Linked DNA regions of Homo sapiens: region 1 is linked to region 2. Evidence: fine-mapped expression QTL. Tissue or cell type: whole blood. Region 2 holds a variant in brackets; the other region holds the start of a gene. All regions are shown on one strand. Distances are between the middles of the regions. Region 1 holds the start of FRY (FRY microtubule binding protein). Region 2 overlaps FRY (FRY microtubule binding protein).

What was found. PIP is the estimated chance that this variant, and not a neighbour inherited with it, causes the effect.
Region 1: it holds the start of FRY, and the variant in region 2 is the best candidate, but not a certain one, in a credible set for the expression of FRY in whole blood (GTEx, PIP 0.81).

What each region holds. Positions count from the first base shown.
Region 1 is chr13:32,029,584-32,034,964 of GRCh38, reverse strand. It overlaps FRY (FRY microtubule binding protein), which reads right to left and starts at 3,191. Exons shown (of 61, transcript NM_023037.3): 1 at 3,100-3,191. The coding sequence starts at 3,169. FRY-AS1 (FRY antisense RNA 1) reads left to right here and starts at 3,326. Exons shown (of 4, transcript NR_103839.1): 1 at 3,326-3,514.
Region 2 is chr13:32,106,716-32,112,096 of GRCh38, reverse strand. The region is part of intron 3 of FRY (FRY microtubule binding protein); the gene reads right to left. Among named protein-coding and RNA genes, the nearest start is that of FRY, 78 kb to the right of the region's middle. The variant C/ATC (reference allele first, on the strand shown) is at 2,939.

The sequences.
Region 1 (5,381 bases), 77 kb after region 2:
GCCATGCAAGTGCAGGAGCAAGAGATCTGAAGCCCATTTGGCCCTGCCATTTTTACATTCTAGGTAAGCGAGGCCTTATTAGGAGACTGATGGGTGTACAGGCATGAATTTGGGAGCATGTTAGTTAAATACAGAGGAGAGTGAGTAGATTAAGCTTGGTTGGCTGGAGCAGAAAAACATGAGAGAGGATGAACGAGGAGCTCAAAGAGGGTCCTGAGTGGCTACCACTGACACTCAGAGGCAAAAGGGAGCTGGGGAGCAGCCTTTGACTGTGAGGACACCACTGGAGCATTCCAGGTTAAACTGAGAAGGGCATGTGGAGGCTGTGGCCATGATTAACAAGGGGCCGCAGCCGTGAGAACCACTAGACAGCTGGGGAAAGGCTGGATAAGAGCAGGGAAGAGCAACAGGACAGACATCCAAGGGGACAGGAAAGCCTCCATATTCAGGTCTACATAGGACATTTTATTTCCAGACATCAAGGCCATTTTAATTCCCACCTCCATTCAAATCAAAGGGCAGCATGACAGAGTAGACGTGCCGATAAAGAGGAGAACACCAAAATGAACATCGAATGAAAGCTAGTACATCTCACTAGCCAGCGACTGATCTATTTATTGGCCTGTGAATTCTTTGGAGGGGACTAATATATATATAATTACATTTTCCCCACAATGTGCCATTTAAAAAAATATGGAAAGCTTTACCTGGAAACGCTTATGGAATTACCTTTCTTCTAACACCTTGCAAAACAGCCAGTCATAGTTATAGAGTTTGTTTTATTGCTTTTTAATTACTGCACTTTTGTAAATAAGCACCACCATATAATTAAGAGGCTGAGTCTCCATTCAGGTATGTGGGCAGACATCCTCACCTCTCAAACTTGTGAGGCCAGGCATGCGCGTGCAGGTGCATGCAGGTGCAATTAGCCGCTTGCCTCATGGTGCATCCTCTCAGCCAAGGTTACACTGAGTATGTTGAGCCTTAGGGCTTCTGTTTCTACTTTGCCTTCTACACAGACAAATTCCTTTCTCTCTTTGCTGCTCAAAATATGTAAAACTTAGCAATGAGAACTATGCTAGATTGTAAGCAGGTTAGTGTTGTAACAAGCTTAAAGAAGATAAACAAAGTATATTTCCTCTTCCTCTTTCAAGAAAGGACTGAAAAACATTCTCCCCCTCAAAAGAATGCTGGAAAGCCACCAACTTCACTACTCTGAAATAAAAAAATTAATATAGTGGGCAGGGACTGTGTCTTATTCACCTTGTGTAGCCCCACAGCCTGGCACATAGTAGGTATTCAATAAATATTTGCTGAATGAATTGGAAGAATTCAAAATTGTATCACAGATATTCTCAAAGTAGAAATGAACAGTCATTTTGAATCATTTCCTGAAGTATGTATGTGGGGAGAGGAGTTTAGGAAGGGTGGAGAGAATATATACTTTATCTAGAGTGATTTGAAAATAGACAAGGGGAGAGAAATTTTTAAAAGAAATCCCATTGGCCTCAGTATTGTCACAACATAATTTTCTATTTAATGATGCAATGACAAAAATTGATGGAAGAAAACAGTCTGGTCTTGGAATAATCAAATATGTTTAAAAACCACGTACTGATGTCAACTCAAAAGTGAGTTTTTTCAGTTATTGGAAAACTGCTCCATAAAGAACACTGTATGTCAAATTCTTTTCATTAATCAAAGAGCAGATAGACAAAGGAAGATTCATCCTTGAGTGTAAAGTATTATAAAAATAATGAGTCCAAGTTAAATGATTTATAGCTATGACAAGTAAAGAATGCTGTTTGGGCAACAGTATTACTCCCAAATGGCTTCCCACTTGTAGAAAAACAGCTTCAGACAAGCCCCATAGTGTATACAGTGGTGCAAAATGACCTGGAAAAAATGGTTTCTATGGATATCATTTAGAGATGCACATCCCTGAATACCTTAAGGCTGAAGGTACTTTAGCTCTTTTCCTCAAAGCAATTGCAGCACAGGTTCTCCTGCCCAGGTTTTGTTTATATAAGAACAATCTTGGCCACAGGTCATTTGTGTAGGAGACAATTAATCACTAGCTCTTTGAGCACAGGTAGGTTAATCAGTATGCACATAATACAATATTAAAATTTTCACGGGGAAAAAATTTTTTTATTTAAAACAATAAAGCATCAGTAATACCTGCTGATCTTTTATCCAAAGCAAGTACAAAGGCTGTTAGTGAAATAGAGAAGACTTTCTTTTTAAACAGTTCGGAAAATACAAGGCATCATTGATCACCTGAAGGCCTCATTTTAATTTGATTCCAGATCCACGGCAGCTTAGAGGTTGTCTTTTTGAAATAGCGTATTGCTAAAATCCTTATGTAGGTCAGAAATGGAACTTCAGGAGCCATCATATTCTGCTATCCTAATAAATAATTAGGGTCAGAACCTCACTTGTTTATGTTTCAAAAAAGCACAATATTTGGACTATAGCAAACATCAGGATTTTTAAAAATTCAAATATTAAATGGCATTCAGAACATCATCCACATGGAAGAGGGAGAGATGAAATAAATCTGCAGATGCCTCTATATACAAAAAGGATGTCCTAGGTTTTGGACTATTAAATACTTTTCTTTCTTCAGACAATACCCTAAAAAAACAATTACAAAGTACTCTGAAACCCTGCCACACCCCTTTGATTAAATCACACTTCACAAAATATTTAGAGAAAGCCTGAACAAATCAAATAAACATCAAGGCAGGAAATGCAGCCAGGAATGCCTGATCCTGAGCTCCCCCAGAGTCTGAAGGGCTGCCTCACTTGAAAATTTAATCAAACACAATCTACTGTAATTCCATTGCAGCCTTTGCACTTAAGGAAAGCTAGTTCAGTCTCTGACATTTTGATTTTCACAGCAGATGGGAGCAAAAAAAGAAAGAAAGAAAGAAAGAAAAAGAAAGAAAGAAAGAAAGAAAGAGAAAAGAAAAGAAAAGAAAAAAAGAAAAACTTCCGCGGCTCACAAACATATGTGTCCAGTTGAGATTTTCTGTCTCCAGCCTTATGCAACATCCAGCAAACAAACAAACAAAAAGGTTATTTTCTATTACTCACTATTACTCCAGGATTTCAGTAAATATTTGATACTGATCTCAAAGAAGCCCGAATCCTGCTGGCTGGCCATGTCTGCGGCATACAAAGAGGCTGGGAGGACGGGCAGCGGCCGGGAGCAGGTACCGGGCGTGATGCGCCTGTCACAGGTTGTGATGTCAGCGCGGGGTCAGGCGCCCAGAGGCAGCTCTGCGGATCCACCTCCGGCTCCGGCCGGGAGTGCTCATCTAAAGGACACGGCGGAGCAGAGAGAGATGCTCGGCCGCTCCTCCTCCTCCGGGTCCAGGACTTGCTTCTTATTTGCTGGACGCTGATCTCCCTGCAGCCCTCGGAGGCGGCGGCCGCGCTGCTTTCATTTCGGGGCTGTCATCACCAGAAACGCCGGCTGCCGGCCGCCCACCAGCTCGGCTCCAGCCAGGTACGCAACCGAGGAAGACCCCACCTGAACTGGGATCGGCTTTCTTCTGGGAGGGAGGGTTTCTAGGCCGGCCTCCCTGACGCGGTGCAGGCAGCCTCCGGCCCACACGGCCGCCGCGGGGCTAAGGGATGGGCCGGGAGCGCCGCCCCCTGCCCCTGCCCACTGTCTCAACCTGAGCCGCGGCTCAGTCTCCGCCTAGGCTGCGGGAGGAATTTCCCAGCTTCTGCGGATCCTCTCTCTTCAGCAAGGCTTCCCGTGAGCGGCCCGGGTGTGCTCTGGCTGCTGCTTCCCCTTGTGTCTGTCCCTGAAATAAACACAACTGCAGCACGCTGCGGTAAGCAAAGCTGCAGCCTTGCATCTGGTTGCAGCGACGTTTTGAAAAACCCCATCCGTCAGCCTCGTTGCAGTAAAGAGACTCAACAAGAGGACGCTTGTCTGGGCTTTTTCTTCCCTGCCTTCCACACGCATGGTGGTATCTGCATTTTTACTTTTCCCTCCCAGAAATGCAGTCTTTTCAAGGGGCATCGGAGCCCGAACGTGTGCACTCTAAGGGGACAGTACACACTGCTTAGTTGGCTTGTTTTTGTAATGTCACACACTCCACAATGGATCTTATTCTCAAACCTCTCATTTCTAAGACTCACTAAGCCCAGTGAAGCTTATTTTATTTGTATGAAAAGGATAAGAAGCAAAAGCATTAGATTCCTTGCTCTACAATGGCTCTTGATTTCATGAATTCTTGATATCAGGTGTCCTGATTTTGGTTAGCTTTGTTTCACATTATCATTTAGCTTGACCAGGGGATTAAATAAGAGTATTATATTTTAATAATGACAGGTTATGTTGGAAGAGGTGGGATTTGGCCAACTATCTCATAAACCACAGGATCCTTCCCAAGTCCCAGTACATTCATGATTAATGTTGTCTAAAAAACAGAAAAAAGTAATAAACCATGTTAATAAGTATTTAACATAGCAAATGTTGGGCTAACTCCCCAAATCAACACACAAACAGGACTTCCTAGATTAACAGTTCATTTTAAAAATGGAAGGGAAAGACTACAATGTACTTTTATTGTTAGGACAAAGAATTTTTAAAATTCAACACTAAATAAAACTTCTAGAACTATGTTCTGAAAGGCCCTAAGATACTTCATCAATACAATTAGTTTTTCAAACTCATTACACTTACCCAAATGGCAAGCACTCAATCACTCAGATTTCCAACTCCACTTATACACTTTATTCTGATGAAATCTCTCACCAGATTGACTTCTTTTTAATTCATGTGCATACTAGAGTTGCTGAACTGATTTTATCACTTGTACTTTGAATGTATGGATTCTAGGTAAAATAAGACCCAAAGGTTTTACCTTGAAACAATTATTATATCTGAAAATAAATTTCATACCTACGCCCATCTGATGCTTGCCAAGACTCAGATGGCAGTGAATGAACAGGTAGGCTGCACAGTGCCCTGCGATTAACGATGGCATGGGCTCTCAAGGCAGGGCCCCATGTTCGCTCCTGGCACCAGCCCTTACTAGCTTTGAGCCCCAAAGTAAGCTATTAACTTTGCTAAGCCTTCGTTTCCTCATCTGTAAAATGGGGTTGTACCTTCTTCCTATAGTTGTTGGAAACAATAAATAACACTATGTATGAAAGGGGCTCAGCATAGTATCTTGCCCATAGTTAACACTTCATTAAATTTTAGCTACATTGATTTTTTTTTTTTTTTTTTTTTTGAGACAATCTCACTCTGTCGCCTGGGCTGGAATGCAGTGGTGCAATCTTGGCTCACTGCAACCTCTGCCTCCCGGGTTCAAGCGATTCTCCTGCCTCAGCCTTCTGAGTAGCTGGGGTGACAG
Region 2 (5,381 bases):
CAAGCACAAACTCCCAGGGTCTTCATTAGAACCCTTGCAACTTAGTTTGTGTTCCCATTCTTTTCTGACTCCAGCAGATGTAAATACAAAGCCTTTTGCCTGGCGCCTTGCAAATGCTTGCATTAGAGGTCACTGAGCAATGTCTGTCCTGCATTAGACCCTTGAGAGAAAGGTAGCAAACATCTGGCTCCCTGAGTTTGCTGCAGGCAACAGCTCACTTCAAAGCCAATGAGAAAGGACACTGAGGATAGTAACTCATGACTATTCTGGAATCAGAATCAATCAATTGAATAAAACCAATTAACTCAGGATCCTCAACCACTCTGAGAAAAGTGTTGAGTCCAAATATAAGTGGGTTGTGACAAATGGACACAACCCTCTGCAAGAAGGCACAGTGTGAAGCTCCTGTACTTCATTTGGTATAAGAGCGTTCTGTAAAACACATGTAGCCCTCATATGATCCTGCTCTCCCCTTTCTCATCTAATTCTCAATTATCTGTCCTTCTTCCTGACAGATTCTCAATCACCCATGCAATGCTGATGCTTCCTCTTCCTGCTTCACTGCCAACTCTCTTCTTCTCTTTCTCCTTCTTCTTTTTTTGAGATGGAGTCTCACTCTGTTGCCCAGACTGGAGTGCAGCAGCACAATCTCGGCTCACCGCAACCTCTGCCTCCCAGGTTCAAGTGATTCTCCTGTCTCAGCCTCCCGAGTAGGTGGGACTACAGGCACACACCACCACGCCCAGCTAATTTTTTTTTTTTGGTATTTTTAGTAGAGATGGGGTTTCACCATGTTGGTCAGGCTGGTCTCAAACTTCTGACCTCAAATGAGCCACCTGCCTCAGCCTCCTAAAGTGCTGGGATTATAGGAGTGAACCACTGCATCTGCCCCCAACTCTCTTCTTGATCCCTGAAATCTGATTTCTGTCCTTGCCACATTATTGGCACCTTTATTTGAAAAATCAGCAGGGACAATTCAATGGCCAACCAATGGCCTTTTTTGCAATAATTTCCCTTGAAGTCTCCTGAGCAAATGACAGTATTCACCAGGTTCTCCTGGAAAGGATTTCTTCCCCAGAATCCTATGATGTTGCCCTGTCTTAATTAGCTTCCTGTACTTTCTCTTATCTTCTATGCTGTTCCTCATGAAATGCCAAAGCATAGTAGGACAATTCATCTGTGACAATAAGGATCTGAATTCTGATTGCTCTGACACATGCTCCTTTGCAGAGTAATCAGACTTTATTATGCAAAGAGAAAATAACTTCCACTTACTGTATGAGACTGTTTTAAAAGTTGAAATAATACTTCAAACAGAAAAACATTGTACAGCATACAATTTTTGGTATTATTTAACACATTGTATGTTTATATCATCATTAAATACTACATAAGCAAAGGTCTAAAAGCCAAGGGCAGAGCAAATCAACAAGCAAGCATTTGCATGTAGCTGGAAGGTATGTGAAAGAATATTCGTTTCTGACTTCATTCATCAGCTAGAATTTTCATTTCTGAGAGTAACTGTATCTAGTGGCTGTCATTAATACAATCTCCAACAGGTAAGGGTCACAAACTCCCTCAAGTAAGAGTTATTTTGGAGTGTTGCTTTTTCACTTTTAAAAATGGGCTAATTTGATCATCACCCACCCAGGCCCACGCTCATCACGGTTGGATGAGTAGTTCTTTGTTGTTGGCTATTGTTTCTTTGGAGAATCTGAAATAAAATGCTGTGGACTTTTATTGTAAAAAGATGTCTGTACAACGAAGAAAACCACTTGAAGGTAAAATGGTGAGCTCACATGCCTTTCATTCATAGATGCTCTCCACAGATGCCAGATAAGGAACTCATCACTGGTTCCATGATTATGTTCTAGCACGCTGCTTTGTTATTTAGGTGCTACCAATCATAATCAGCCACTATAACTTAGCTTGTGAAAGTAAGCTTCAAAGTATTTAACATTAGTCCATCGACTATGAAAATGCACTCTACACATCCATGAATAGCCATTGCAGCAAAAGCCTTCCTCAAAGCCACTTCCAGTGAGCTCCTAGCTGCTAACCTCCAGTTCTTCCTGGTCTGCATCTTCCGTGATGTCCCTGCATCAGCTGCTGTGATGGGCCATCCCTGCCCTAGAGAGCACTATCTCTAGACTTCTCCCACTTTCCAAACTACCCTTTTTCTAGCCATTCTTTTGTAGATCCCACCTCCTGATACTAAACTCTTTATGACGTTCTTTACTTATGTGCTCTAGTCTCTATCAGTGTTTGTTGAGTGACCACATAATAAACTGAACCCGTTATTTTTCTTGAGATATTTCACCTTCCCTGAAAACTCAGTATGCATAACGGATTTACAGCCTTCTCTTGTCTTCTGCCCCCAAGTATAGTTTCCTCTGCTTGAAGAGCTCATAGCCCATAGAAAATAATCTAGACCCCTCAGCACGGCTCCTACTACCCACTGCAATGGGCTCAGTCCACCTTTCTACCCTCATTCCCAGCACTCTGCTCTTTTCACCTTCAACTTCTCCTTTGTCTGTGAGACCCCTGCTGCCTGGCATACCCTGGCCCAATTTGTTCATCTGGATAAAAGGCTTATTTTAAATGTCACTGCTCCTTGGTTGCTTCTTGTAGCACACACTTGTGTACCTTCCTAGCATCATTAACTCCTCCTTTATCTGAGTTCCTAGAGCACTTGATACAACCTCTATTATAGCGTTTACATTGCCACTTTATTTGTGTAGATAACTGTCTTCCTTCTGGGATTGAGAATTCCTGGAGGACAGGGCTCTGTCTTATTCATTTTTGTGACTTCAGCACCTTGCACAGATCCTAGTATGTGTCAGGCACTCATTGTTTGTTTAATTGAATGGAAATCGCTCCAAATCATGCTTAAAACTACAGTTATCCTTTGTTTCTCCTTTTCTCAACCAATGTTTAT[C/ATC]CTTTTTATATAATTTTGCTTATAATCGTCCTTTCTTATAGTCTCACTGCCTCCATTTTAGTTTAGGCCCCTTTAGCTTAGAATCTTTATCAATGCCATGTTCCCCAAATGCCTTAGGTCTCTTCATTACTGCCTTCATGACCATTGTCTCCTTAAGGCTAACATCAAGTTGACAACTTGATACTGGTATGCATACAGCCCCATCCCACTGGCATTAAGATCTTCCACAATCTGATCCCTTTCTACCTCTGCCGCCTGATCTCTTTTTTAACTTCTGCCAGACTGTAGGAAATGTTTGTTTACAATGGAAAACTAAAGCATACCTCTCAAGGGGTTATCTGATTCTGAGTCTATGGGGGCTCTATACCTGTCAATGCCTTTGAGCTATTTTAAAATTGTATAAATGGTAGATACCTGATAGCAATGCAAAATAATTCTTGTCTATAGACATGAAAAACTGTCCAGTGAAGGTTCAGTGGACTTCCCTCCCCCACATGAAAGAAGCCAGTTTTGCCTCTGATTGCATTCATTTCAATGATGATTTATAAATGTGTCTGTTTTTTGGAATTTAACTGGTTGTAACATCCTGCACTAATAACAAGTTAAATAAAATGTTTAATACAGGTTCATTTTATATCTCTATGTGAGTCATATTTTTGCCTGTTTTTGAAGATTATCCTTTAACAATACATGCCTTCTGCATCAACTAAATTGATCAATTTCTAGGTTCCTCAAAGATAACTGATAGTGTCATTTTTCTGTTCAGGACCTTTGCATAAAATGTTCCTTTCTTCTGAAATTTCCTATCTTCCTCATCATCAACACTCAGCAAATCCTATCGATTCTACTGCTTTAGGCACCTGATAAATCTTGTTCTCATCTAGAAGGCATTTTCTAGCTAGGCAACTGGTCCTGAGGCATGTGTCTTCTGTCCCTGAAGTCTCAGCATATTTACTGTCCACACCATTCATGTGGCACTTCTTACACATGCAGGCCTATGTCAAGGCTGGTTGTGCACTGCCTGACCCTCTTCCAGATCTGGAGCTCCTGGAATGTGAAACACATGCCTGGGGACCACATTCTTACATCTCTTTGTCTCATATAAAACTTTGTGTGTATGTATATACATATACACATGCACAGTAAGTGTTTGCTAAATTACTTTATTACCAGAACGATTTTTAGTTCCTTTTACTCGCTAAGCCCTGACAGTTACTATAGTAATTTAAAATAAATAGTGATAGTATATACATCTTCAAATGCTGTTGGAATTCTCTTCTGCCTTTATTGATTCTTGTTACTGGTATGACTTTATCACTAGCATGGACCAGAAGGGATAGCCCATACTGCTCTGAACCTCTGCTGCCTGCTCCATGAAGGCCTCCCTGGCTCCTCAGGGCAGGGCGAAGTTTGCTCTCCTGAGGCTCACACCCGCTTTAGCTTACTTACTAGTCTGCGGTTATCATTTATCTGATTGTAGTTCTATTTTTCTCTCCAACGAGACTCCAGTGGTGGGGCCTCTAGGGCAGGCACTATGCTTCCTTCCTGTTTGTTTCCATGAGTTGGCATAATGCTTGGCACATGGTTGCCAGGAGGTAGGTGCTGTATAACAATGGAAAAAAACTCATATTCCTGAAGTTTGTGAAAAGTGAAATTCTGGAAATGAGGGCACAAATTCCTAGTTCTCCAATGTGTAAAGCATTCACTAGTATATTTCTCCTACTAACACTGAGCTTTAAAAATCCTGTTTAGACATCTTGTCATTTATAAAATCTTTTTTCCAGGTTTCTTCTTTATTTTTATTTTTTATTTTTGAGACAGAGTCCCACTCTGGAGTGCAGTGGTGCAATCTCAGCTCACTGCAACCTCTGCCTCCCAGGTTCAAGCGATTCTCCTGCCTCAGCCTCCCAAGTAGCTGGGATTACAGGCACGTGCCACCACGTCTGGCTAATTTTTGTATTTTTAGTAGAGATGGGGTTTTGCCATGTTGGCCAGGCTGGTCTCCAACTCTTGAGCTCGGGTGATCCACCCGCCTCGGCCTCCCAAAGTGTTGGGATTATAGGCGTGAGCCATTACGCCAGGCCCTTCCAGGTTTATTCTTACAGAGTTGGAGTGTAATTAGGTTAAATTTAGAAATACTAAACCAATAAAATTATGAGTGTAAAAATATAAAATATAAAAGAAAACATGAAGTTTTAGCTTCTAAATATATATGTATATTTAAGTTCAAACTGGAAAACTGGCAAATTTGAGGAGAAACCCACAGTGGGAAAGAAAGAGGTACAGAACTGTAAATAGTTCTACTTTGGGCATTTTGGCTAAATATCTAGTGGATACATCTAGCTGTTACCCAATAACAGGTTTTCTTCTTTTTCTTTTCTTCTTCCTTAGGTATAAAATACCCCATTTTTAGACGGACACATAGTCACCCAAAGTAAAATTT